4 linked regions of the Homo sapiens genome follow. The protein of the gene in region 4 purifies or fractionates together with the protein of the main gene of each other region. This does not show direct contact. Each region holds a gene or a part of one and is shown on either strand. Other genes may lie near its edges.

Region 1 (6,899 bases), on a different chromosome or scaffold from region 4:
AGACACTTCCAAGAGTCACCAGCCCACTGCCAGCAGAAGCTCAGAAATCCAGATTTCCTCACAAATCTCTTAAATGGAACTAGAGAATGCAAATCTAACCCGTCCCAGAAACAGTTCAATCCATGTAAACTGGGGAATGTGATAGGGAATGATGCAGAGAAAAGCCGGCATTGCAGCACAGCAAAGCACACACATCTGGCTGCCTTTTGTGTTTATAGTTTGTATATCCAGATAATCTTTTTATGCAAACAATAAATCTGCATGGAAATAAGGTGCAATCTGCTTTTACATTACTGGGATATATTTTACTTGGCAAACAATTTCCCTGGACTTAAAAGGATCAAAGAAAGGGAAAGGACTTCCCTGGCGCTGCACAACAAAACTCAGGTGGTGCTGGGCAGGGACCAACTAACTGCCCCTCAGAAAACCAAGGACTAGAATGAAGGCAGGGCTTATGGTCCCGGTTCTGGTCCCAGGCTCCCCTCTTCACCCCCTCCAGGGTGTGCCAGACTGTCCCCAGCAGAGAGAGCAGCTCCAACAGTTCCACGGTGTGCTGTGAGAAAGTCCTTTACACCCAGCCGCTGGACCTCACACTCACCGCCCACCAGCCCTGCCACCATCATTCTGACCCCTATTTCTGATTTCTGTTCCCCTTGAGGTACTTGGAGGTAGCTATCATATCCCTTCTGAGCCTTTTCTCCACGGTAATCGCTCGCGTCTTCAACCTTTCTTCACTCTTTTGAGCCACTCCTGCGTGTCCACACAGCTTGTGACCGCGTAACAGACCCAGCACAACTAGGGCGACAGCAAAAGAGGCGGAGCCAGGGTGTGTGCAGGGCACGCCCCTCCCTCCTGCTCCAGGTGAGGTATTTCCACCAGCGTGGATGCAACTGAAACCACGCCCTCTTTCCACCGTCTGGCCCAACCCCAGCCAGAAGCAGCTGATGGGACGGTAACAATGACAACTGGCATTTATGGAGAACCTGCTCTTGTTAGACCCTCTACCATGCCTTTCAGTCCTCACAAACGTCAGAGACCACAAGCACAAAGTTACAGGTGGGGAGCCCCACGGGGATCCCGCTCCAACCAGCCTGCCTGGGGTCACGGAGCTCAGACGCCTGACCACAGTGAAGCTCAGGGACTCCAGTGTATTTAAGCCTCGTTCCAGGAAAGGTCATTGAATAAACCGCTGTTCCTTCACGATGCTTTCCTGATTTGGGCATTGATTTGTTAAATTTAAAATATCATAACAAACAGCAAATCCAAGGAAAACTGCTTCCATGCTTGAAATAACACCCAACTGTCTGGAGAACAGCTATAAATGTGAGGCTCTGGGGAGCAGAGGGAGGCCTGAAAGGCGGGCCTTCTCGCTCAGGGCCCCAACTCGCTGGCTGTGGGAGCCCTTCCAAAAGATGTGTCATGAGAACTAAGCTAATTATCCACGTAATTCTCACACTGGGGTTGGGGCCATCGCCAGGGGAAAGCACAGGTTATCTCAAGAACGCAGCCAGATAGGAGGCTGGGGAGACTTGGACGGGCCACCTTCTGCTTCAGTAACTTGGCCCCAAGCTTTCAGGAGGTCTCTGCTTAGAGGAGGACTGCAGAAAAGAAGGCTGCTGGGCCACTGTCCCAATGTTCCGAGCTACAGGTGGTCACCCATGGAGGGGGGTGGGACCTGCTCGGAAGTCCTCCAGTCTTCCCGCCCCTTCTCCCCTCCCGGCCCTCCCAGGCGGCCCCTCTCCTCGGCCTGCCCCCTCCACCCCGCAATTCTTCCCGTCTCAATTCCAGTCCCTCTCTCTTGCGTCCTCCCGGCTTCCACCCCCTCAGCCTGGCCTCCAAAAGAAAGATCGGGCAGAGCGGTAGGAAAAGGGAAGCCACCGCGGTTTCTGAAAACAAGAATTCCCGCGAGCCAGGACGGTCACGAGGCCGGGGAGGAGGCGGCGCAGCTGATCAAACGCGAATGGGGACCAGCCCTGGCGGGGGTGCGGGGGGGCCCTGGCTGTCCGCGGCAGCCGCGGGCGGGGCGGCCGCTCCGAGGAGGGACGGAAGGGCTGCGTGGCACCTCGCGCTCGAAGACCAGGGGCGCGCCCTCCGCGGGGAGAACTCGGGGCGGCGGCCAGACCCGACGCGACCCCCGGCTCGGACCCTGCAGTTAACTGCTCCCAGACGCTTTCCCAGTGCGCCCGCCCGCCGGCCCTCGGGAGGTACCGGGCAGGGGGCTAGGGCCGGGCCGACCCTGTGAGCCGCTCAGCCCCGGGCGCCCCCGCCCTCCTCGGAAGTGACTCGTCCTCAGGGAGAGTCCGGCGCCCGCCCTGCCGGCCTCGGCCCCTTTCCCGCCCCATTTGGCTCCTCCGCCGGGGGCGCCCCCAGGCTGGGCAGGCTGGCTCCCCGTCCCCCTAACCCCGCCGCCCGGGCACCCCTCGTCTGCGGGCGCGGGGTCCAAGTGTCCCCTGTCCAGGGCGGGCAGAAAGGAGAAGTCGCAATCTCGGTTGAAGTCTCTTCCCCGCCTCCTTCGTGCACTTCAAGGCTGCCTCGGCCCCGCGCCCCTCCCGCGTCCCCGGCCCCGCACCTTGCCGCAGCGGCCCCTGCGCCAGTTCGGACCGGTCCTCGGGAAAGGCGTCGCGCAGGCGCTGCCACAGGCGGCCCAGGTCCGCCAGGCTGCGGTGCAGGTAGAGCACGCTGCGGTCCGACCACTCCGTGCGGATCTCGAAGAACTCCTCTTCGTCGCCGCGCCGGCTGACGATGAGCCTGCGGATGCCGTTCACCCAGCAGCCGCGCACGAACATGTTCACGAGCGACGTGCCCTCAAACACCGCCGAGGCCATGTCGCACGCATGCCCCCGCCAAGGGCTCCCCAGCCCCGCCGCCCGCCCGCCCGCAGGAGGCGCGCCCCGGCCGGGGTCGTCCCGGGTCTGTCCGTGGCCGGGGTCGTCCGGGGTCGGCCCGTCACTCCAAGGAGGCTGCGTATGGCCCGCGTTCGGGGCAGCGGGGCGGCGCGGCGGCGAGTGGCTCGGGCCGGCCGGGCGCGGCTTTATAAGGCGCTTCCCATCGCGGGCGGCGCGGTAGTCGACGTCGAGGTTAGGCCGCGTCCGCCTCCCGCCCGCCTCCCGCGGAACGGGCGCCGCGGGCCGCTCTGGAAAGGAAGAGGTCCGGCTGGCCGCGCCCCCGCCGCCTCCGCAGAGACCGCGCTGCCGCGGCCACGAGAACCCCCGGAGCCGGGAGCCGGGCCGAGTCCCAAGCGCTCGCCCCCGCCTCGCGCCCCCCGCGCCTCCTCCCTCGCGGCCCCGGAGCCGCAGGTCGGTGACTGGACCAGCCGGGAAGGGAGGCGGGGCGGGCCCTGCTTGCCAGGCGCTCGGCGCAGACTTTTTTCTCTTTCCGTTTCGCGATCCTCGGGACCTCCCAGGGCTAGGAGCTGCGCGCCCCACCCGGCCCGCGAGGGGATGGCAACTACCCGGGGTCCGGAGGCGGGGCTGCGAGTGTCGGGGCGGGGGGCGCGGGCCGGGTCGAGCACCGCCCCGACGAGGGCCCAGGCCAGTCCGGCCCGCCCCGGGTTCCCTCCGTGCCTCAGGTCCCCTCCGTGCCCCGCGTCCTCCCGCGCATTCCGGTCATGCCTCAGCCGCGCCAAGGCCTGGGACACGGCCGGACAGACCGCGGGGCAGCCCTCGGAGAAGTGGGAAGAGGGGAGAAAACAGTGGCGAAAAGAAGGTCTCCTGGGAAGGAGCGCCCTGGGAAGCTGGACGCGGTGGGTGCTCTTGAGGGGCCTCAGGAGTGGACTTGGGGAAACCGCCCGCCCTGAAAACTGACTCAGCGGCGCGTTACTGAGGCCGTTCCTAGTTGGAAGAGAATTAATAGCACTTGTTTGAGAATTACAAGTTAGTTCCAGAAATGAATCGAGTGACCTCACAGCCCGTAGGCAGGGGTGGGAGAGCCAGGGTGAGCCCCTCACCTCACCCCGCCCCCGCCCCGGCAGCGCTCTGGAAAGCCTCAAAGCCCAGCGCTGCGCGGAAATGTTAGAGGCCCAAGGCAGGTGGCCTGTCTGGACTCAGACCCGACCCAGATGTCCCCCCAGGTCCCTACCACTCAGTCCCACCTGCCTCGACTCAGTCCCGACCCAGATGACCACCCCCCCCCCGCCCCCACCACGACCAACTTTTATTCCGACTGCGCCAGTGACTTGCAGATAGCATAGCTTCAAATTTCCTCACCTGGTCTGGGGCGGTGAACAGGTCAAGATGGAGAGTGTCAAGAGAGACTTTTGCTTTGTCTATGATGTTTTTATATACACTTGCTAATTAAATGAACGCATATGTTTCCTGTGTAATTTTGTATAGGGGAATAGGGGCCGTGGGAACTGGAAGTAAACAGCCAGTGTGCCAGCAGCTCTTGACTCTAGGTGGTGGGAATAAGTGCCGTTGTAACCACAGTACCAGCCCAAACGGGGCTTACTCTGTTTGTAACAATGTTGAGTTACCTTGCAGGTATAACAGAGCCAAAAACTCTTAAGTCACAAAGCCCAGGCATGCACCATAGAAAAAGATTTGATCTCTAACAAACATCCAGAACCAACTATTCGTCTCCTTGGAACGAAGAAGACTGGGACATGACTGGAACCCGAACATTCGAACTCTCAGAAGGGAAGGGTCTCTTGGCCCAGAAGATAGGGGCTAAAATCCACCTCAACATACCGTACCATAAATGGCCAAATTTGAAGGCCTTCAAACAGATCCTGCCCAGCCAACATTTCTAAGTCCTTTCCTTTGCCCTCTGCTTCCTTAGAACTTGCCCCAGACCCCAAATCAGGGAGGAAGATTTGAACCTGCCTCCTGTCTCCTTGCTGGCTGGTCTTGCAATAAAGTCTTTCTTTTCTCAAAGGCAGTACCATGGTATTGCTTCCGTGTACATTGAGCAGTGAGCCTGAGGCAGGAAAATAGGGTCAGGAGGCAGGGAACATAAGGCCAATTCACACTTCGGCTGTAACAGGAAATATCCACTCCATAGGGCGTATGCTGTAAGTGACTTTGTAACTTTACTTCATCCTCTGCATTTACGTAGAGGGTAAGTGAAGTAAACAATGGAATCATCTAGGGGATATTTAAACTTCCAAAAATTCTGTAACGGGGCCTTTGAGCCCCTATGTTCGGGCCGCTCCCACACTGTGGAATGTAATTTCGTTTTCAATAAATCCCTTCATTCCTTCCTTGCTTTGTTTGTGCGTTTTGTCCAATTCTTTGTTCAAGATGCCAAGAACCTGGACATCCTCCACCGGTGACAAGCCCATTTGCTTAATAAGATTATTATTTTCTTCTCAGTATTTTTCTGTTACTTATTTTCTGAAAGTGCCAGGAAGAGGAGGGCAGGCAGGACCACCCCAAAACAGGCCACCTGTGGTATCATGGTGACCTCTAACCCCAGCCCCCAAGAATATGAAAGTGATGACGACTCTTATGAAGTGTTGGATTTAACTGAGTATGCAAGAAGACATCAGCGGTGGAATTGAGTGTTTGGCCCCAGTTGGAGACCTATGGTGTTACAGAGAAATACTCAGTAGCTACCCAGATTGGAATGTGTGGCGTGACAGGCTGGTATGCAGGATTTTTGCTCCCAAAAGTTGGGAAGGTTGCAGCAACTGCAGTGACTTCCAGATTGACTGGAAGAGAATTGAAAGAGACGTACATAAAGCAAAAAGACATACTAAGGCCCGGGCGTGGTGGCTCATGTCTGTAATCCCAGCACTTTGGGAGGCCGAGGCGTGTGGATCACCAAGTCAGGAGATCGAGACCATCCTGGCCAGCATGGTGAAACTCCATCTCTACTGAAACTACAAAAATTAGCTGGGCGTGGTGGTGGGCGCCTGTAATCCCAGCTACTTGGGAGGCTGAGGCAGGCGAATCGCTTGAACCCAGGAGGCAGAAGTTGCAATGAGCCGAGATCACGCCACTGCAATCCAGCCTGATGACAGAGCAAGACTGCATCTCAAAAAAGAAAAAAAAAAAAAAAGACAGACTAAGAAATGAGCAAATAAAGCAGCACCTGAAATCAACAATACAGTTGAAGAAGCAACTGACTTTATCAAACAGAACATTGTGATATCCACTGAATTTGTGGGAGGCTTTTTGCTAAGACTTGCATTTTAAAGACATGAATGGTCTACCATAGTAGACAGCTATGAGAAGTGGCGGCAACACAGTGTCCTCTCTCAACAGTACATGCTGCCGGATCTCAGAAAAACAACTAGCTGGACAATACTGAACTCACAACTTAGCATTTTGCCATCTGGAGCCTGGCAAACTGGTATTTGCTGTAAAACAACTTATGTGGTATGTGAACAGTAGTAGTTCTGAGCAAAACGTGGCTTTTATCATTTAAAAAAAAATGCTTCTCTTTAGAATTAGCTTATAAAATATCACCATTGGTTGTAGATATGGAGAGAAAAGAAACTGCTACATTTATTGCCTGGTGAAATATTAATCCCTTTTCATTTAAATAAGATGTTCTGGCTTGGCGCGGTGGCTCACACCTGTAATCCCAACACTTTGGGAGGCCAAGGAGGGAGAATCACCTGAGGTCAGGAGTTCAAAATCAGCCTGGCCAACATGGTGAAACCCTGTCTCTACTAAAAATACAAAACAATGAGCTGAGCGTGGTGGAGGGTGCCTGTAATCCCAGCTACTCAGGAGGCTAAGGCACAAGAATCACTTGAACCCAGGAGTCAGAGGTTGCAATGAGCTGAGGTTGCGCCACTGCACTCCAGCCTGGGTGACAGAGTGAGACGCTGTCTCAATAAATAAATAAGATGTTCTTCATTGTGGTTTACAGTATAATGACAATAATTTTAAAATCTGTATTATAGCTTCAATATTAGGACTGACTTTTTTTTAAAGATATGTCTGCAATAAATT
Region 2 (7,416 bases), on a different chromosome or scaffold from region 4:
TGCATGTGTTGAACCATCCTTGCATCCTTGGGATAAATCACACTTGATCATGATGAACGATCTTTTTAATATGGTGTTGAATTTGGTTTGCTAGTATTTTGCTGAGGAGTTTGCATCTATGTTCCTCAGGGATACTGGTCTGTAATTTTCTTTTCTTCTAGTGTCTTTGTCTGGTTTTGGTGTCAGGGTAATTCTGGTTCTGTAAAATGACTTTGGAAGTGTTTCTTTCTCTTCAATGTATTGGTAGAATTTGAAAAGGATTGATATTCATTCCTCTTTAAATGTTTGGTAAAATTCAGCAGTGGATCCACCAGGTCTGGAGATTTTCTTTGATGAGAGACTTTTATCACTGATTTAGTCTCCTTTCCCATTACATATCTGTTTAGATTTTCTATTTCTTCAAGCTTAAGTCTTGGTAGGTTTTATGTGTCTAGGAATGTATCCATTTCTTCTAGGTTATCCAATTTCCTGGCATATAATTGTTCTTAGTATTCTCTTAAAATCTTTTGCTTTTCTGTGGTATTAATTGTAATGTCTCCTCTTTCATTTCTGATTTTGAGTCTTCTCTTGTTTTTTCTTAGTTGATCTAGCTAAGGGCTTGTCAATCTTATTTATCTTTTCATAAAACCAACTCTTGGTTTCACTGATTTTTTTCCTATTGTTTCTCTAATCTCTACTTCATTTACTTCTGCTCTGATCTTTATTATTTCCTTTTTTCTACTAATTTTGAGCTTATTTGTTCTTTTTTTTCCAGTTCCTTGAAGTGTGATGTTAGATTGTTTGGGATCTTTTTTCTTTTTGATGTATGTATTTATTGCTATAAACTTCGTTCTTAGAAGTGCTTTTGCTGCATTCTATAAGTTTTAGTATGTTGTATATACATTTTCGCTTGTCTCAAGATATTTTAAATTTTCCCTTTAATTTCTTCCTTGACGTATTGGTTATTCTGGAATATGTTTTTTGATTTCCATATATTTATGAATGTTCCACAATTCTTATCATTAATGATTTCTAGTTCCATACCACTGTGCATATATTACTTGATGTGATTTCAATATTCTTAAATTTGTTAAGACTTGTTTTTGTCTGTCACTTTGAAAAAATTCAACAACCTTCATGCTAAAAACTCTCAATAAATTAGGTATTGATGGGATGTATCAAAATAATAAGAGCTATCTATGACAAACCCACAGCCAATATCATACTGAATGGGCAAAAACTGGAAGCATTCCCTTTGAAAACTGGCACAAGACAGGGATGCCCTCTCTCACCACTCCTATTCAACATAGTGTTGGAAGTTCTGGCCAGGGCAATTAGGCAGGAGAAGGAAATAAAGGGTATTCAATTAGGAAAAGAGGAAGTCAAATTGTCCCTGTTTGCAGATGACATGACTGTATATCTAGAAAACCCCATTGTCTCAGCTCAAAATCTCCTTAAGCTGATAAGCAACTTCAGCAAAGTCTCAGGATACAAAATCAATGTACAAAAATCACAAGCATTCTTATACACCAATAACAGACAAACAGAGAGCCAAATCATGAGTGAACTCCTATTCACAATTGCTTCAAAGAGAATAAAATACCTAGGAATCCAACTTACAAGGGATGTGAAGGACCTCTTCAAGGAGAACTACAAACCACTGCTCAATGAAATAAAAGAGGATACAAAGAAATGGAAGAACATTCCATGCTCATGGCTAGGAAGAATCAATATCGTGAAAATGGCCATACTGCCCAAGGTAATTTATAGATTCAATGTCATCCCCATCAAGCTACCAATGACTTTCTTCACAGAATTGGAAAAACTACTTTAAAGTTCATATGGAACCAAAAAAGAGCCCGCATCACCAAGTCAATCCTAAGCCAAAAGAACAAAGCTGGGGGCATCTCGCTACCTGACTTCAAACTATACTACAAGGCTAGAGTAACCAAAACAGCATGGTACTAGTACCAAAACAGAGATACAGATCAATGGAACAGAACAGAGCCCTCAGAAATAATGCCGCATATCTACAACTATCTGATCTTTGACAAACCTGAGAAAAACAAGCAATGGGGAAAGGATTCCCTATTTAATAAACGGTGCTGGGAAAACTGGCTAGCCATATGTAGAAAGCTGAAACTGGATCCCTTCCTTACACCTTATACAAAAATTAATTCAAGATGGATGAAAGACTTAAACGTTAGACCTAAAACCATAAAAACCCTAGAAGAAAACCTAGGCATTACCATTCAGGACATAGGCATGGGCAAGGACTTCATGTCTAAAACACCAAAAGCAATGGCAACAAAAGCCAAAATTGACAAGTGGGATCTAATTTAACTCAAGAGCTTCTGCACAGCAAAAGAAACTACCATCAGAGTGAACAGGCAACTTACAGACTGGGAGAAAATTTTTGCAACCTACTCATCAGACAAAGGGCTAACATCCAGAATCTACAATGAACTCAAACAAATTGACAAGAAAAAAACAAACAACCCCATCAAAAAGTAGGTGAAGGACATGAATAGACACTTCTCAAAAGAAGACATTTATGCAGCCAAAAAACACATGAAAAAATGCTCACCATCACTGGCCGTCAGAGAAAGGCAAATCAAAACCACAATGAGATACCATCTCACACCAGTTAGAGTGGCAATCATTAAAAAGTCAGGAAACAACAGGTGCTGGAGAGGATGTGGAGAAATAGGAACACTTTTACACTGTTGGTGGGACTGGAAACTAGTTCAACCATTGTGGAAGTCAGTGTGGTGATTCCTCAGGGATCTAGAACTAGAAATACCATTTGACCCAGGCATCCTATTACTGGGTATACACCCAAAGGACTATAAATCATGCTGCTATAAAGACACACGCACACATATGTTTATTGCGGCATTATTCACAATAGCAGAGACTTGGAACCAACCCGAATGTCCAACAACGATAGACTGGATTAAGAAAATGTGGCACATATACACCATGGAATACTATGCAGCCATAAAAATGATGAGTTCATGTCCTTTGTAGGGTCATGGATGAAATTGGAAATCATCATTCTCAGTAAACTACTGCAAGGACAAAAAACCAAACACCGCATATTCTCACTCATAGGTGGGAATTGAACAATGAGAACACATGGACACAGGAAGGGGAACATCACACTCTGGGGACTGTTGTGGGGTGGGGGGAGGGGGGAGGGATAGCATTAGGAGATATACCTAATGCTAAATGACGAGTTAATGGGTGCAGCACCCCAGCATGGCACATGTATACATATGTAACTAACCTGCACATTGTGCACATGTACCCTAAAACTTAAAGTAGAATAATAATAAAATAAAATAAAAAAGACTTGTTTTTGGCCTAACTTATGATCTATCCTGGAGAATTTTCTATGTGTGCTTGAGAATATTATATATTCTATTGGATAAAATATTCCGTAGGTCCTTTTTGTCTAAAGTGTATTTCAAGTTCAATGTTTCCCTATCGATTTTCTGTCTGGATGATCTGTGAATTGTTGAAGATGGGGTCTTGAAGTCTCCTACCATTATTGTATTGCAGTCTACTTCTCCCTTCAGATCTATTAATATTTGTTTTATATATTTAGGTGCTTCTATGTTGGGTGCATATATTAAATATGTTTATAATTATTCGATATTCACGATGAATTTATCTCATTATCATTATATAATGACCTTTAAGATCTTTTATGGTTTTTGACTTTAAGTCTATTTTATTTGACATATGTGTAGTTATCCTTGCTCTCTTTTGAATGATTGATGGAATAGATAAATGTCATGAATTGTTTTCTGCATGGGGGCACAGTGCACCATGTCACAAGAGACAGTCTAAGTACAAACTGATATTGTTAAAACATCAATATAGTCATTGTGGGATCAATAAAAACTTTTCATAGATTTTTATACATTACTGTTTTTATTCTGAATTGCATAAGATGGACGGGCACCCTATCTTTTAGTGTTTAGAACCTCTAAATGTTTTAATGTGGTAACACTTGAAAAACAGAAATGAATATGACCTAGTCCCCTGCTCCAGAGCAGCTCTAGGGAAGAGAGACATAGACACAAGGTATAACAACACTATGTAAATAGTGTTGGGATAGAGGGTCTGTAGGAAGGGTTGGTGTGGGAGTTCAGAGAACTACATTCCTCCTAGGGGAAACAGGAGAATCAAATAGGAACGGAGATACAGAGTGGGGAATAGAGAAGTCAAATGGAGAATAAGAGGGAGTGATAACTGAATAGGGGTAGTAAGAAGAAAAAGGGAGCTACATTGAGGAGAATGGAAAGTTGAAAGTAGGTATGGAGGGGAGGAGACTGACAGGCAGGAACGGAGACCCCCCTCTGGAGGCGGAAAGAGGCAGGACCACTTCCGGCCAGGGAGGGGGATAGGCTCAGACACAAGGAGAGGCTTGGAGAGAGCAGACGCCTTCTGGATTCAAGAAGACGAGGTGAGCTGAGGTACCTGGCTTTAGTGAAGACCCTGTGGGGGCTTCCTGGCTGCGGCTTCGACGTGCCTGACTCCACACGCCCCTAAGGTTTGAAGAAAACCTGCTGGAGGTTTGGGACCTAACCGCATCAAAGTCGCCTTTAGCGGTGCCTGGACCCAGTTCGCACGGGAGGAAGTAGGAGGCAGAATCCCCTTTGGGCCACAGAAAGTAACGATCTGGACTCGGTTCGGGCCGTGAAAGGGAGGGATGCAGACCTAGTTGGGACCGCAGAAAGGAAGGATCGAGAAATCCTTCAGACGGTAGCAAGAGGGGAGGAGGATACACACAGTTCGGGAGGGAGATAGGAGACGGCAGGACTCCGTTTAGGCTGGAGAAAGGGGGCAGTACCCCGTTTGGGCCACAGAATGGAGGGATCGGGACCCAGAGATAAGAGTGGGCAGCATCCCTTTTGAGCAACGGAAAGGACCAGACTCAGACAGGAGAAAGGAGGGGATATGACCCGGTTGGTTCCGGTTTGAAAGGGAAGAGACAGGACCTGGTAGGGTTTGAGAACAGGAATACACAGAAGGTTCATACAGTTGGATTTGGGGGTGAGGTATTCATGTTGCAGAAAGGGCGGAGCTGCACACTTGCAGACGTGGAAAGAGGGGGGAGTGGTGTTGGTTGGGGAAGGGGTGGTGCAGAGACGTACCGCAGAGCGGAGGGAGGGGGCTTATTAAAGGAAGGGAAGATGAAGAGAAATGCTGCAGAGCGGAGGGAGGGGGGTGTATTGGGAAGGGGCGGTGCGTGGCAGTACCGCAGAGGAGAGATGGGCGGTGTTGGGGTAGGGGCGGTGCGGAGTGGTACTGCAGAGCGGAGGGAGGGGGCTAGTGTTGGGGGAAGGGTTGGATCGAGATGTGATGCAGTTAGAAAGAGTGGGTCGGGGTGGCGCCAAGATGTTCTGTTGCTCTGAGAGCAGGGGGCAGATGTGGGATTGAGCTGGTTAGAAACTGTCCGGTTTACCAAGGCGCATGCGCGCGGAGGGCATTGAAGAATGGTTCTTTTGGGATAGAGGTGGGCCTAAGATGGGGGGTGGGGGCGCCTCTAGTCGGTGCGCATGCGCACTATCGAGTTGCGGAGGGGGCGTGTAAAGGGGTGGGGTCGTAGAACTGACTCTCTCGGAGGCAAAAGGAGCTGGGCCTTGGAAACCAGATGGCCTGGGTTTTTTAGGTATGAAAACCCAGGAGTTGAAGGGATTAGGGCCCAAGGTTACATGAGACTCCCCTAAGTCAGGATAGGTGAGATGTCTGATGAATCTCCCCCTCCCTCTCATTCTCTAACTCAGGCCCATTCCCCTCAGGCTCACCTGTTACTCGGCCTCCCAGAAAGATGGATAGGAGAAATGACTACGGATATAGGGTGCCTCTATTTCAGGTGAGGCCTCTCTGCATTCTCTCTAGGCCATCTGCCCCATCCTGAGTTCACTTACTGCTCTTCAGACCCCTTCCACCGTGTAGTTTCATAATTCCCTGCCTAACTCGTCTCAGTCCTCCCTTACATGGTGAAGGAGAGGAGAGGAAAACCTGCCTGACTCTATTCCTTCCTTGCTCCCTACCCCATTTTAATTAACCACTGCTCAGAGGAAGGGAAGGCCTTTGTGGAAAGGGATGGGCTTTAGCGAGGCCAAATGGCCCAGAGGATGGTAATCCTAAGTGTGTAGGGCCCTCTGCCTCCCCCGGGGAGCCTGGGGCTTCCCTTCCCTCCAGATATACAGACTGAGACCACAGAAGAGGACAGTGTCCTGCTGATGCATACCCTGTTGGCGGCAACCAAGGACTCCCTGGCCATGGACCCACCAGTTGTCAACCGGCCTAAGAAAAGCAAGACCAAGAAGGCCCCTATAAAGACTATTACTAAGGCTGCACCTGCTGCCCCTCCAGTCCCAGCTGCCAATGAGATTGCCACCAACAAGCCCAAAATAACTTGGCAGGCTTTAAACCTGCCAGTCATTACCCAGATCAGCCAGGCTTTACCTACCACTGAGGTAACCAATACTCAGGCTTCTTCAGTCACTGCTCAGCCTAAGAAAGCCAACAAGATGAAGAGAGTTACTGCCAAGGCAGCCCAAGGCTCCCAATCCCCAACTGGCCATGAGGGTGGCACTATACAGCTGAAGTCACCCTTGCAGGTCCTAAAGCTACCAGTCATCTCACAGAATATTCACGCTCCAATTGCCAATGAGTCAGCCAGTTCCCAAGCCTTGATAACCTCTATCAAGCCTAAGAAAGCTTCCAAGGCTAAGAAGGCTGCAAATAAGGCCATAGCTAGTGCCACCGAGGTCTCGCTGGCTGCAACTGCCACCCATACAGCTACCACCCAAGGCCAAATTACCAATGAGACAGCCAGTATCCACACCACAGCAGCCTCCATCCGAACCAAGAAAGCCTCCAAAGCCAGGAAGACAATTGCTAAGGTCATAAATACTGACACTGAGCATATAGAGGCTCTAAATGTCACTGACGCAGCTACCAGGCAGATTGAGGCCTCAGTAGTGGCTATCAGGCCCAAAAAATCCAAGGGCAAGAAGGCTGCCAGCAGGGGCCCAAATTCTGTCTCTGAGATCTCTGAGGCCCCACTTGCCACTCAGATAGTCACAAACCAAGCCCTGGCAGCCACCCTGCGGGTCAAGAGAGGGTCTAGGGCTCGGAAGGCTGCCACTAAGGCTCGGGCAACTGAAAGCCAGACTCCAAATGCTGACCAAGGGGCCCAGGCCAAGATAGCCTCTGCTCAGACCAACGTAAGTGCCCTTGAGACTCAGGTTGCTGCTGCTGTCCAGGCCCTGGCAGATGACTATCTGGCTCAGTTGAGCCTGGAGCCCACAACCAGGACCCGGGGCAAAAGAAACCGAAAGGTGAGATCTCTGACATTGCCATCCTTAACTTTGTGCTTCTTTTCCATTTCTACCCTTCTAGTTTGTTCATTTC
Region 3 (4,796 bases), on a different chromosome or scaffold from region 4:
TGGGATTACAGGCATGAGCCACTGCGCCCGGCATGTATATAGTTTTAAATAGTTTCAATTTACAGACTAACAGTATTAAACACCCATCATAAGAAGTTGTTGCAAACAAATATTATTCTGGGGTATAGATATCGATAGTTATGTTTTTATGGTGCAAAGATAGAGTTGACTTTTAAGAAAGAAACAGAACTTTTCTCGGTACTACCATCTCAAATTCTGCCTCACCACAATCTCTAACTGCAATCTGATGTACAGGAATTATACTGTTAAACACAATTATTTATTAAAGGGTGTTTTTAGATTTGACTACAATGATTCAAGTTATCATCAGTGTAATGATTTAGGCAAAAGGAAAATCAAGTATGTACTTTATTAAGACTTTGCTCTATCAGGTTAATTTATATCAAGATGTTATTTAAAATGTGTGCCTTATGACAATTTCCCAATGTGTTATGGTATGTTAGGAGTATACTAAAGTATGCCTAAAAGGAAATTTTTAACTAATACATGCTCAATTTCAACAATGAATTAACACATTTGCATTTTATTTTAATGACTAAAGGCATAAAACACAAACTAGTAAAATTAACAAAAATATTATATAAAAAATTAGAGAAGTATGAACATAGTCATATAATTTTACTTACAAAATTGAAAAGAAAAATACTTAGGATTATAGAGTGATAGCAATTTTTGGGGGCTTTTTTCCTTGACAGAAATATTAAACAACAAATGTGAGTTAAGATTTTATATTCTTATAAACTTCAAACCTAACTTTTATAAGAACAGACTGATGCTTAAATTCTAGAATTAAAAAGCTAAAGCTGATTTTTAATGGTATAATTAAAACAGAAACAACTGAATTATTAAGACGTTGCTCAAAAACACCCATCAGCTGTCTAACAGATTTTGAGACAATGTATCATTCTGGTTTGGAGAATACCAAATGCATTTTTCTAAATGTCACAAAAAAGCTGAGCAGAGTTTCTCCAAGGACTCTCCAGCTTCAGAATGTTAACCTTGGAGACAGATGAAGCTGTTTGTGGGAAAGGAGAGTAGAAATATGCCACATTAAGAAGTTAAAGAGAATGGTCAATATAATATCTGGTGAATATTAAGAATGTAATATAGAAAAGATACATTCTATAAATAAATTATAACCAAAACAATCATGTACATTAGCAATTTAAAATATTTTTCTCTGAAAATGAACTATTTGATTATCCTTGCCCTTTATCAAAATAGTAACTATTTTCTCATAAAAGAGTACTAGTGTAGTTTTGCTTTATTATTTTTAAAGTTTTAAGCTAGTTGGCTTTACAACACATTATAAAATTAGAGATAAATTATTTAAACCTTTATTAATATCACCCTAGTACAGTGTTAGTAAAAACTGAGACTTTTTTAACATTATAATTTCTTATAACTAATTATAAGTGATAGAACTGCTCTGCAATCAATCTTGATAAATATAAAAGAATATTTAGCCAACACAAAAACAACTGGGGAAGCGAAATAAGCATATAAGCTTTAAAAAATTAGTATGTTTTAAAGAGTTTTACATTAAATAGACTCAATTTACTCACATTGTTGAAAATCAAAATTTTATTCCTAAAAGAGGGACAATATAAAGCTAGGACCTTCATGAACATTCAGATATCAGAAGAAAGTTGCCAAGGACAGAACTGATTTAACAGCAAGAGATTGGTCTTATGCTTATTACCCAGCACCATTACTAACTGTTAAAACAATCAAAACTAAACAAATCAAATGCATGGCTATTTATTTTTTGTTGCTTTTCACAGATGAGCCTTTGATGTGGAGTTTGTCCCCCAAAACATTTGATCTCCTTCCATGTTCAATGGCTGGACTTTGTTGAGGTTTCTCCCTGAGAAATATACATGTGAATATTAATATCATTTAAAAAATGGCCAATGGTTTATAAATCAATACAAACATGTTAAAAACCACTGTAATATAAGAAAAGTTTTATCTTAAAAATTCCTTAATGGCTTTGAAAAACAAGGCTGGCCAGGTGCGGTGGCTCATGCCTGTAATCCCGGCACTTTGGGAGGCTGAGGCAGGCAGATCACAAGTTAAGAGATCGAGACCATCCTGGCCAACATGATGAAACCCCATCTCTACTAAAAATACAAAGATTAGCTGGGCGTGGTGATGCGCGCCTGTAGTCCCAGCTACTCAGGAGGCTGAAGCAGGAGGATTGCCTGAACCTGGGAGGTGGAGGTTGCAGTGAGTTGAGATCGCGCCACTGCACTCCAGCCTGGCGACAGAGCCAGACTCTGTACCCCCTGCCCTAAAACAAAAAATAAAAAACAAAAAAAACCAGAAAATAAGGCAGACTATTTCAGTGAATTTAAGACAGCAACAGCTGTTTTCCTGTTAGATTTAACTGTTTATAGTTTAAACACTGTTTAATGTTAACAGTATGGTAGTCACTAACCACATTTATATTTGAATTAAAATAAAATAATTCAGTTCTTCAGTTGTACCAGCAATGCTTCAAATGTGAATCAACAGCCACATGTGGCTAGTGATTACTACACTGGACAGAATAGATATATAGCATTTTTGTCATTACCGAAGTCATTTCAGAAAATGCCATTGGACAGTGCCGGTTAAGAGAAAATGCCACTGTTAGGGCCAGAAATTTATAGGTCATCCATAAAGAGCATGCCTTCTCTAAGTGCGACCTGGATTTCCTATTCAAACTTGGCACTGCCAGGTTTTTAATCAATACATTTTTCAAATGAGACAAATATCTATAATGAATATGGGAGCAAGTTTTCAAGCAATTCAATAGAAAATACTAGGGCTCTAAATTCCTAAACAAGTATTTTAGAAGAAAAGATCCTAGCATATGAAATTCTGCATAAGGCTTCTGATTTACTTGATACTCACTTGTCCACTGCTAGTTCTGTGAAGGCTTCCACCTTCTGTAGCAATTTTCCACTTTCTTATAGCTTAGAACAGATTTCTATTTAAGGTCTGGTGAGGCCTTTGAGTGTAACTTCATAGGAATTAGATATTATTATCCATTTATTCCTCTGAGAACCACATTAAACTGTAGCTCCAGAGTATGTACAAAATGTATTTAAAAACTCTATAATATTTATTTATTTATTTTTGAGATGGAGTCTTGCTCTGTCACTCAGGCTGTAGTGCAGTGGTGTGATTTTGGCTCACCACAACCTCTGCCTCCCAGGTTCAAGCAATTCTCCTGCCTTAGCCTCCCAAGTAGCTGGGATTACAGGGTGTGTGCTACCACACCTAGCTAATTTTTGTATTTTTAGTAGAGACGGGGTTTCACCATGTTGGCCAGGCTGGTATCGAACTCCTGACCGCAACTGATCCACCTGCCTCGGCCTCCGGAAGTGCTGGGATTACAGGTATGAGCCACCATGTCCAGACAGAAATCTCTATAATCTTTAATATGTGGTTTCAGCAAATTTATTTTTCTCAGCTATTCTAAAAGGGAATTCTAAAAGAAGCTAATGTTCTTGCAAAATTCTTCCAAAATATCTAATACACATCGAATATGGTATTGCATGTACTGTTACATATTATACAAGTGTCTGAAATTTACTATTAAATGCTAAATTTTGATTTGTTAAGAAAGTTGTTAAGTCTTCCAAATAGAGCCCCTCTCCCCTTATCATATCTCTAGATATCTTTACCAGTGTGAAATGTATGACTCTATCTATATCCATATTACAATGTGTTTTACAAGAATAACTACACTACAGGATATCAGTTTTCCTTAAGAGGATTTTGGTCTCTGTCTTCTGAGGCATAGTTTACTAGTGAATTACTAACCATAAAATCCTAAACTATTATTGATTTTTAGATATAAATTTAAATTTGTGTGGAATAATCAGCTTTCATATAAAATTATTACATCTTTCACAAAAGATACTGTGGATACAATTTGGATGATCATCAAAACTTTCTGATAACAGAAGTAAATTACATAACTTTACTTCAAATTCTTCTTAAAAAACCAAACTATTTTAGAAACAACTTTTACCTTCTTTTAAGTTCTCGGGAGCCAGGATTCTCATGGCCAACACTTCTCATTCTAGTGTTTCCTAGATTGTGTCGTCCTGGTTTGTACTTCAAAACCTCACTTTGCCACTCCTCATCAAAAGCATGAGCATCACCTATGTCAAACAGAAAAATAATGGGAATAAGTATTAAGGTATCAACTGTCAGTAACTGCCTTGCTCCCACATATTTCAGTCTAGTCTGGTGTTTTCATTAGTGTAACCTCAATACAGAGGCAGGAAGCTGCTTCAAATATAAGGGTCTTTGACAAAAGTAGTATTTGTTTTCCTGTCTGTTCCTCTCCTATTCCTACTGATGATCTAGTTATTGATGATCTATTTTTTCAACTGCCTGGATAACATATTATTCTACCCAATGGACCAGCTGACCTAATTATATTAACTAACAGTTTTTCTTCCTGGGTCATCTCACAGTGAATATACTCTTCCTGTATAGTGTATACTTCTGTGGCTAGCACTTCTATTCACCTAACCATCTTTCTGTGTAACTTGACCTCACAAGTTTCTGTTGTCAATTTCCTAAGACAGGTTACTCAGCTAGAATGTCAATTCATGTTGTTATGAAGTAATCTAACTTCCATAATAGCAACAATAGAGACATGATAGTACTTCTTAAGACTGCTTTAAAATATTATGTTCCTTCACTCAATTTTTCATCAAAATGTTGATTATTGTGAAATACTCAGTATATATATAAATGTGATAAAATTACAG
Region 4 (7,033 bases):
AAACTTTATCTGGGCCAGGCACAGTCACTCACGCCTGTAATCCCAGCACTTTGGGAGGCCAAGGCTGGCAGATCACGAGTTCAGGAGTTTGAGACCAGCCTGGCCAACATAGTGAAAATACTACTAAAAATACAACAATTAACCAGACATGATGGCACGTGCCTGTGGTCCCAGCTACTCAGGAGGCTGAGGCAGGAGAATTGCTTGAACCTGGGAGGCAGAGGTCAGAGGCTGCAGTGAGCCAAGATCATGCCACTGCACTCCAGCCTGGGCGACAGAGCAAGACTCCGTGTCAAAAAAAAAAAACACCTTTATATTTTCAAATGGTAGGGATGGCTAATTTATTGTGTGTGATACCAACTGCAACAGGAGAAACCTGTTTCATCTATCAAAGCTATTGATAATGTTGACAAGAACTATAAAATGCATGTCAGAATGTTTTTTAACTTAAGAGGCCTACATTATCATATGTAAAATAACTCAGAAACAGAAAGTCAAATGCCGCATGTTCTCACTTATATGTGACAGCTAAACAATGGGTACACATGGACATACAGAATGGTGGATATTCAGGTGATGGGTATACTAAAAGCCCAGACTTCACCACATCTATACATGTAAGAATCTATACATGTAAGAAATCTGCACTTGTACCCCATAAATATTTTTTTAACTTTTAATTTTTTAAACTTAAGAGGCCTAGCCTCAGTGAAAATTTAAGCTGCATAATTCATGCTGAAAAATTTTCTATGTTCATTAGTGTTGGCAAAAAGGTCACCCTAGGATTTGAATAACAGTAATATTTAATTTCATTTCCCCATTAACTTTGCCAGGAATCTCACACTAGTGTTAAGGTAACTTCTAGAATACAGAAGGAAAAAAGGAATGGAGAGAAGAAGACATTAACTGAATTACCATTCAATACCAACTTGATCATGCAACTTGGTAATAGATCTTTGCGCAGACAACAGCAAATCAAAACATTAGTCCAAATATGACCACTGACTTCAGGGCAAATATGAGAGATTTAAAATGAAAGAATACAGTTCATGAGATTTAAAAAAAAATGGAAAAAAGCAATAATAAATGAATGAGGTCTGGTGATAAAACAGCTGCTCAATAACAAAATTATTCTAAAACAACTTCAGAAACCCTACTGTCTGCCAATATATATATAACCTCCCTTCAATGGTTGATTTTTCAATGGTCAATTTTTCACTAAAGTAGTATACTCTATTCAATTTTTTTTTTTTTTTTTTTTTTTTTTGAGACCGAGTCTCACTCTGTAGCTCAGGCTGGAGTGCAGTGGCACGATCTTGGCTCACTGCAACCTCCATCTCCCAGGTTCAAGGGATTCTTGTGCCTCAGCCTCCCAAGTAGCTGGGACTACAGGCACACACCACCACATTCGGCTAATTTTTGTATTTTTAGCAGAGGTGGGGTTTCACCATCTTGGCCAGGCTAGGCTCAAACTCCTAGCCTCAAGTGATCTGCCTGCCTTGGCCTCCTAAAGTGCTGGGATTACAGGTGTGGGCCACCACCCCCGGCCATCAATGTATGCAAGATAAATTGACTACAGAAAAATAAACTATTCAAAGAAACACCTAATAACCATTCTAACAACTATTCCTTTATACAATGCTCTCAGCAAAAGGCCTCACAATGACAATTACGACATCTTGAAGCACAGAAAACACTCCATGTAGTTTATAAAAAAAACTAGTGATATGTGTCTCTTAAACCTTCATAACTCAAAACCACAGGTTTGTATTTTTTCTAAAAATAATATTTATTTGCATCACTTGTAGTAGAAGTCTGATTCTTAAAGTCTTCTAATTTTGCTTACTGCTAATAATGAGAATGGTAAACGGGTGTATGTGTGGGGTAAAGGAGAAGTTGAGAAATTCCTCACTGGTATATGAATGAATTCCATACTTGCCTTTTAAAATGTGCTCCTTTCTTGAAATTGGGCATACAAAAACTCCCTTTGGGTTTGCATTACTTTCATATTTGTGAATACTCACATGGTAGTCTTCAAAGAGCTAGAACACTTGTTTTCAACCATTTGCCAGGTGGGTGTATTTTCACCACAAATTCCAAGAACTAATGATATGTAAATATATATGTATGTATGTCTACACATACATATATGCACACTATGTGTATGCGTGTATATCTTTACAAATGTTTACATAATTTAATTAAGGGCACCATCATTATACTTTTTACCACACACACAAAAAAAATGGTGGCAGAAAATCTGGAAAGATTCTAATAACCTCAATTCGTGAAAACTAACATGCCTCAAAAAAGAGGGGGAAAAAACTTTAACAGAAACACTGTGCTGACATGATTAGCTTTATCATTTAACTGGTGTGAGGCATCTGGGCCATGCCATATTTGAACTCTTATCGTGGTGTTTGGGGTGTGCTATATTGTGGAACAGGTCACATGAAACTGCTGACACCTTCTAAAATGGTAGGACAACATTTACATATTAGGAGCTTACATAACTGAAGAAAATCGTGTGGCAATGACACAATTCATATTTATTTTAGAACCACGGCTCATCTCAAAAACTCTTTATCAACTATCCAGAAGTAGCCCAGCTTTTTACCAACCAAGTAGTTATTTACTATAGCAACTTCTTTACCAACATTTCCAAAATTTTCCACACACTTCCATGATGAGCTATTAAGCAGTCTCTGTATGTGTTGTTACCTGGGCAACACTCTAAGAAGGCTTTTACCTTTACAGAACTGGTGGGTCAAAGAGAAGCAAGGCTTCTTCAAATCGACTACACACTATTTAATTAGAAGCAGTAAGTGTGAAATCATCAGCAGACAGAAAAGCTTGAGAACTGCCACCAGTACTTCAACTTGATTAACAGACACAACTTACTGGCATTTATACCTTCATTTCTAGCTACCCAATTCCCCTGTGAAACAAGGCAAGTTCCATCCAAGACTTCAAAACATCTTCAGTCATACAGGCTGTCAAAGACATAAATGCTGAAATCTAAGAAAATTCTTGGAATAAAGAAGCCATCAATTCCTTACAAGTGGATTTTGTATAAAATACCCTGCTTTGCTGCCCTAAATTCTAAAAGCTACTCAGCTTAGCTGCAGATCTGTATAAACTACCCTTCTGCCTGAACTAAACCTGCCTCCAAAAATTAAGATCCAGTCATTTAGAAATCACATTTTAGAAGGCCCTTGTAAAGACTTTCAAAACTGCTTCCTGTTCTACTACAGCCAATTTGACGCTAATGAAGAAAAACAAAAAACAAACAAAAAAAAAACACTGTCTCTCCTTACAAATAAAATATTTTTCACTTTCCAACACTTTTAGGATTGGTAAACTCAAGGTTGCTTCTCTAACACTAATAATTTTTCCCTTCAGCTTCTACTCTAAGGATACTTATGTGCTCTCTGGATCATATTTTAATCATAACATATAAATCCTGTTCAATGTTAAGAAGTACTAGATTACTCCAGAGTCAAAAATGAAAGATAAACTGAAAAGCAGAAAGGAAAACTGGCATTCTAGGCTCTTAACCATCTGGTGCTAACGGACTCTTTCTTGCCTAGCTCTTTCACTACTCATTTTTCCCTGTCTATGCTTGTATGCCTTTGATCACCCTGGCCCCTGGCCCAGAAAGGCCTTTCTCTCATACTAGTTGTCCTATTTCCACATGTCCAAATCCTACCCATTCTTCAAAGCATAGTTCAGGGGCCGGGCGTGGTGGCTCACAACTGTAATCCCAGCACTTTGGGAGGCCGAGGCAGGAGGACAGTTTCAGTCCAGAAGTTCAAGAACAGCCTGGGCAACATAATGAGACCCCGTCTCTACAAGTAATGAAAAATTAGCCAAGCATGTTGGTGTGTGCCTATATAGTCCCAGCCACTTGGGGGCTGAGGCAGAAGAACTGTTAGAGGCCAGGAAATCAAGGATGCAGTGAGCTGTGATGGCACCACAGCACTCAGTTTGAGTAACGGGAGTGAGATGCTGTCTCCAAATTAAAAAAAAAAAAAAAAGTAGTTCAAATGTCACCTCTTCTTTTATCCTTAAAACTAAAAGTAGACCGGGCACGGTGGCTCACGCCTGTAATCCCAGCACTTTGGGAGGCTGAGGCGGATGGATCACCTGAGGTCAGAAGTTCAAAACCAGCCGGGCCAACATGGCGAAACCCCGTCTGTACTAAAAATACAAAAATTAGCCTGGTGTGGCAGTTGGCGCCTGTAATCCCAGCTACTCAGGGAGGCTGACGCAGGAGAATCACTTGAACCTGGGAGGCAGAGGTTGCAGTGAGCCGAGATTGTACCACTGTACTCCAGCCTGGGTCAAAAACGAAAAACAAACAAACAAACAAAAATAAAAGTAATCTCTCCCTCCTCTCTAAACTCTTATAGTTCCTTATCTTTATCTTTTTACCACCCATTACTTTCTGCCTTTCATTATCACTGTTGTTTCCATATTTAATCCCCCACCTAAGCATAAAGTCCTCAGGGTCAAGGTCCATCTTTATTCAAACTGATTAACACAATCCCTTATACACACTAAGTGAGGTTAGGAAAGAAGCCCACCAGAAACAACTCCAGATTGAGTCCAGAGCCCTGGCTTTGCTAATAACTCACTATCTGACCTTGGCCTTGAGGCTCTTAGTATGTTCCTTCACTTACAAAGTTAAGAGGGTAGGCTAAACTAGTTGTATTTGTTGTTAAATGTAGGCTATAATCCATTAGCTGGGTGTAAAATTAATTTGGAAGTCAAAACCCAGCATTTTTAAAATGAAATGAAATAACAGAATATATCAATGTGTGTTATAAGCAGTGGGGTGCTATAAATGTTTAACAACTACCTATGAGGAGGGAAGCCCTAAGAATACCATTTGCTGAATTTCCTGGTGTAAATATTCCCACCATGACCAATTTTGAGCTACCAACATGATGTCACTGGACAAAGAGCTAGATAGGAAGAAATATGCACAACTGGTCTTGCAAGCCATTATAGCTAACTCAGTAGGGCCCTGAAAAGATAAATATTATTTCACCAAACTTTCAACTTTGTGTGTGTGTGCGCTTGCGGAATCAAGTAGTAAAATGTATTTTTTATTGTGGGTCACAGTCAAATGAGTTTAATAAATGTTCAGGTAAACAATCTCCTGGTGTCCTTCATGTATACTACATAATTTGATAAATCTTACTCTTGGTTACAGATGTCTCTTCACCACAATTCATATTTTTCTTCAAAAATGGGAGTAACAAACTGATATCACCAGAAGGCAAATTACACAGAGCAGGAATTTGGTTTATGGAATATCAGCCAAGTGCCAAGGTTTTTAGCATTTGTTCAGCCCTACATACCTGAAGGATATAACACACTCCTACTATCAATGGCTCACTTAGCAATGGGTTGGGGGGCAGGTAGGGGGTAAGAGGAGGAAATCCATAGTATAAAAAAAAAATCCAGATAATTCTAGTATTTGTGCTCATGTTCCCACCCCACTGAATACCCAGATACACAGAAAATTAGAGCAGTAAAAAGTAAATGTTCCATGCCTGATGTTTCCCAATCAAATTCCCTTGCATCCCTCAATGAGACTTCCATTACTAAGAATCACCTACTGGAACTAAGCTTTTACCATGGACTAGGGATGCATAGTTCTTGCTGAATTTAGAACAGGCAACAGGGAAAATAACACAGCAAACAGTTGTTAGGCTTCATATTCTGGGAAAATCAGCCTTTTATTAAAAAAAAAAACTGTCTTATTTTCCTCTTATTTAAGCTTACTAAACTGGGTGAGAATTTTCTTAAATATATTTTTGGCTGTACTATGTCTATCACAACACAGCCTGTAACCAGATTTTTCATGAGTATTTATAAAGAATTGTGTTGTTGTTGGGTTTTTTTTTTTTTTAAGCCCAACAGCACTGGCAAATGTTTTCTACTTTAAAAGCTATTTAGAAAATAAGAAGGCTCAGAATTTCAAGTATACTAATAATCTTAGCCCAAATCTAACTCTAAATCAACTGAATATATGCCTAGAACTTTCCCAGGAAAATCCCCAAAAAGTACACCAAAAAACACCAAAAGATAACAAAAAAGAGTTAGCATGCGCATAAACTTCGTATACCCAATTATGCCATCCCATCTGTTGAATAAGAGCAATATGGGAAGTAAACGAAGTATAAAAAGAAGATGTTCAGAGATGCAAGCTCTTCTTAATTCATTAACTCTTCCTTATTAGGGTCCACTGATGTTCACATACTTATACCCAATTCAAATACTGACTATAAAGTCAAAATTATTTCCCGTTCTGAAAGTCTAGGAGTCAAACAATGTCTTTCTCTATAATATCAGCATTAAAACTCTCCTTTAAAAATGAGTATGTTTTACCATAACTCAGGCTCAAGTCCGTACTTTCTCCGCCTCCACTGTTTGTAATGGCAAAATGCTCATCAGATCATCTCCACAAGAAACCCCTGAGCCATCTTTGAAATACCAGCACCTGGTGCGCTGCACCCACTAACTCATCATCTAGCATTAGGTATATCTCCCAATGCTATCCCTCCCCCCTCCCCCCTCCCCACCACAGTCCCCAGAGTGTGATATTCCCCTTCCTGTGTCCATGTGATCTCATTGTTCAATTCCCAGCATGGCACATGTATACATATGTAACTAACCTGCACAATGTGCACATGTACCCTAAAACTTAAAGTATAATTAAAAAAAAAAAAAAAAAAAAAAAAAACAGAAAGAGAAAAAAAAAAAAAAAGAAATACCAGCACCTGGAATAGCCTTGGGCTGCTGGTCATCCTCAGACTCAACGGCTGACCCATTTATATAAGTCAAGAGTTATAAAAATATAGAACTCATTAAAATTAAGACATAAGCAAGCTCTGTGCCTGGGAATCCCATAGGCTTACAGCAACAACTTCATTCTCCAAACCCCCTCTAACCAGTCATAATGATCCATACCCCACTTGAAGACAATGGTAGGTTGGAATGCAGGCCCACTTCTACACCTTCA

What was found.
Region 1: the proteins of RABGAP1L (region 4) and PXDC1 purify together in Homo sapiens (affinity purification with mass spectrometry; 2 studies listed by BioGRID and IntAct, with this or other methods). This does not show direct contact.
Region 2: the proteins of RABGAP1L (region 4) and TRO purify together in Homo sapiens (affinity purification with mass spectrometry; 2 studies listed by BioGRID and IntAct, with this or other methods). This does not show direct contact.
Region 3: the proteins of RABGAP1L (region 4) and MLF1 purify together in Homo sapiens (affinity purification with mass spectrometry; 2 studies listed by BioGRID and IntAct, with this or other methods). This does not show direct contact.

What each region holds. Positions count from the first base shown.
Region 1 is NC_000006.12:3,748,707-3,755,605, forward strand, and holds the start of PXDC1 (PX domain-containing protein 1), read right to left. Parts: upstream 3,008-6,899; 5' UTR 2,826-3,007; coding exon 2,570-2,825; intron 1-2,569.
Region 2 is NC_000023.11:54,916,426-54,923,841, forward strand, and holds the start of TRO (trophinin), read left to right. Parts: upstream 1-4,398; 5' UTR 4,399-4,453; exon of another isoform or gene 4,454-4,540; intron 4,541-4,562; exon of another isoform or gene 4,563-5,043; intron 5,044-5,777; 5' UTR 5,778-5,821; coding exon 5,822-5,866; intron 5,867-6,152; coding exon 6,153-7,343; intron 7,344-7,416. UniProt on the Homo sapiens protein: Could be involved with bystin and tastin in a cell adhesion molecule complex that mediates an initial attachment of the blastocyst to uterine epithelial cells at the time of the embryo implantation. Directly responsible for homophilic cell adhesion.
Region 3 is NC_000003.12:158,602,189-158,606,984, reverse strand, and holds the end of MLF1 (myeloid leukemia factor 1), read right to left. Parts: intron 4,179-4,796; coding exon 4,046-4,178; intron 1,889-4,045; coding exon 1,783-1,888; 3' UTR 1,037-1,782; coding exon of another isoform or gene 1,015-1,036; 3' UTR 529-1,014; downstream 1-528. UniProt on the Homo sapiens protein: Involved in lineage commitment of primary hemopoietic progenitors by restricting erythroid formation and enhancing myeloid formation.
Region 4 is NC_000001.11:174,162,499-174,169,531, reverse strand, and holds part of RABGAP1L (rab GTPase-activating protein 1-like), read right to left. Parts: intron 1-7,033. UniProt on the Homo sapiens protein: GTP-hydrolysis activating protein (GAP) for small GTPase RAB22A, converting active RAB22A-GTP to the inactive form RAB22A-GDP. Plays a role in endocytosis and intracellular protein transport.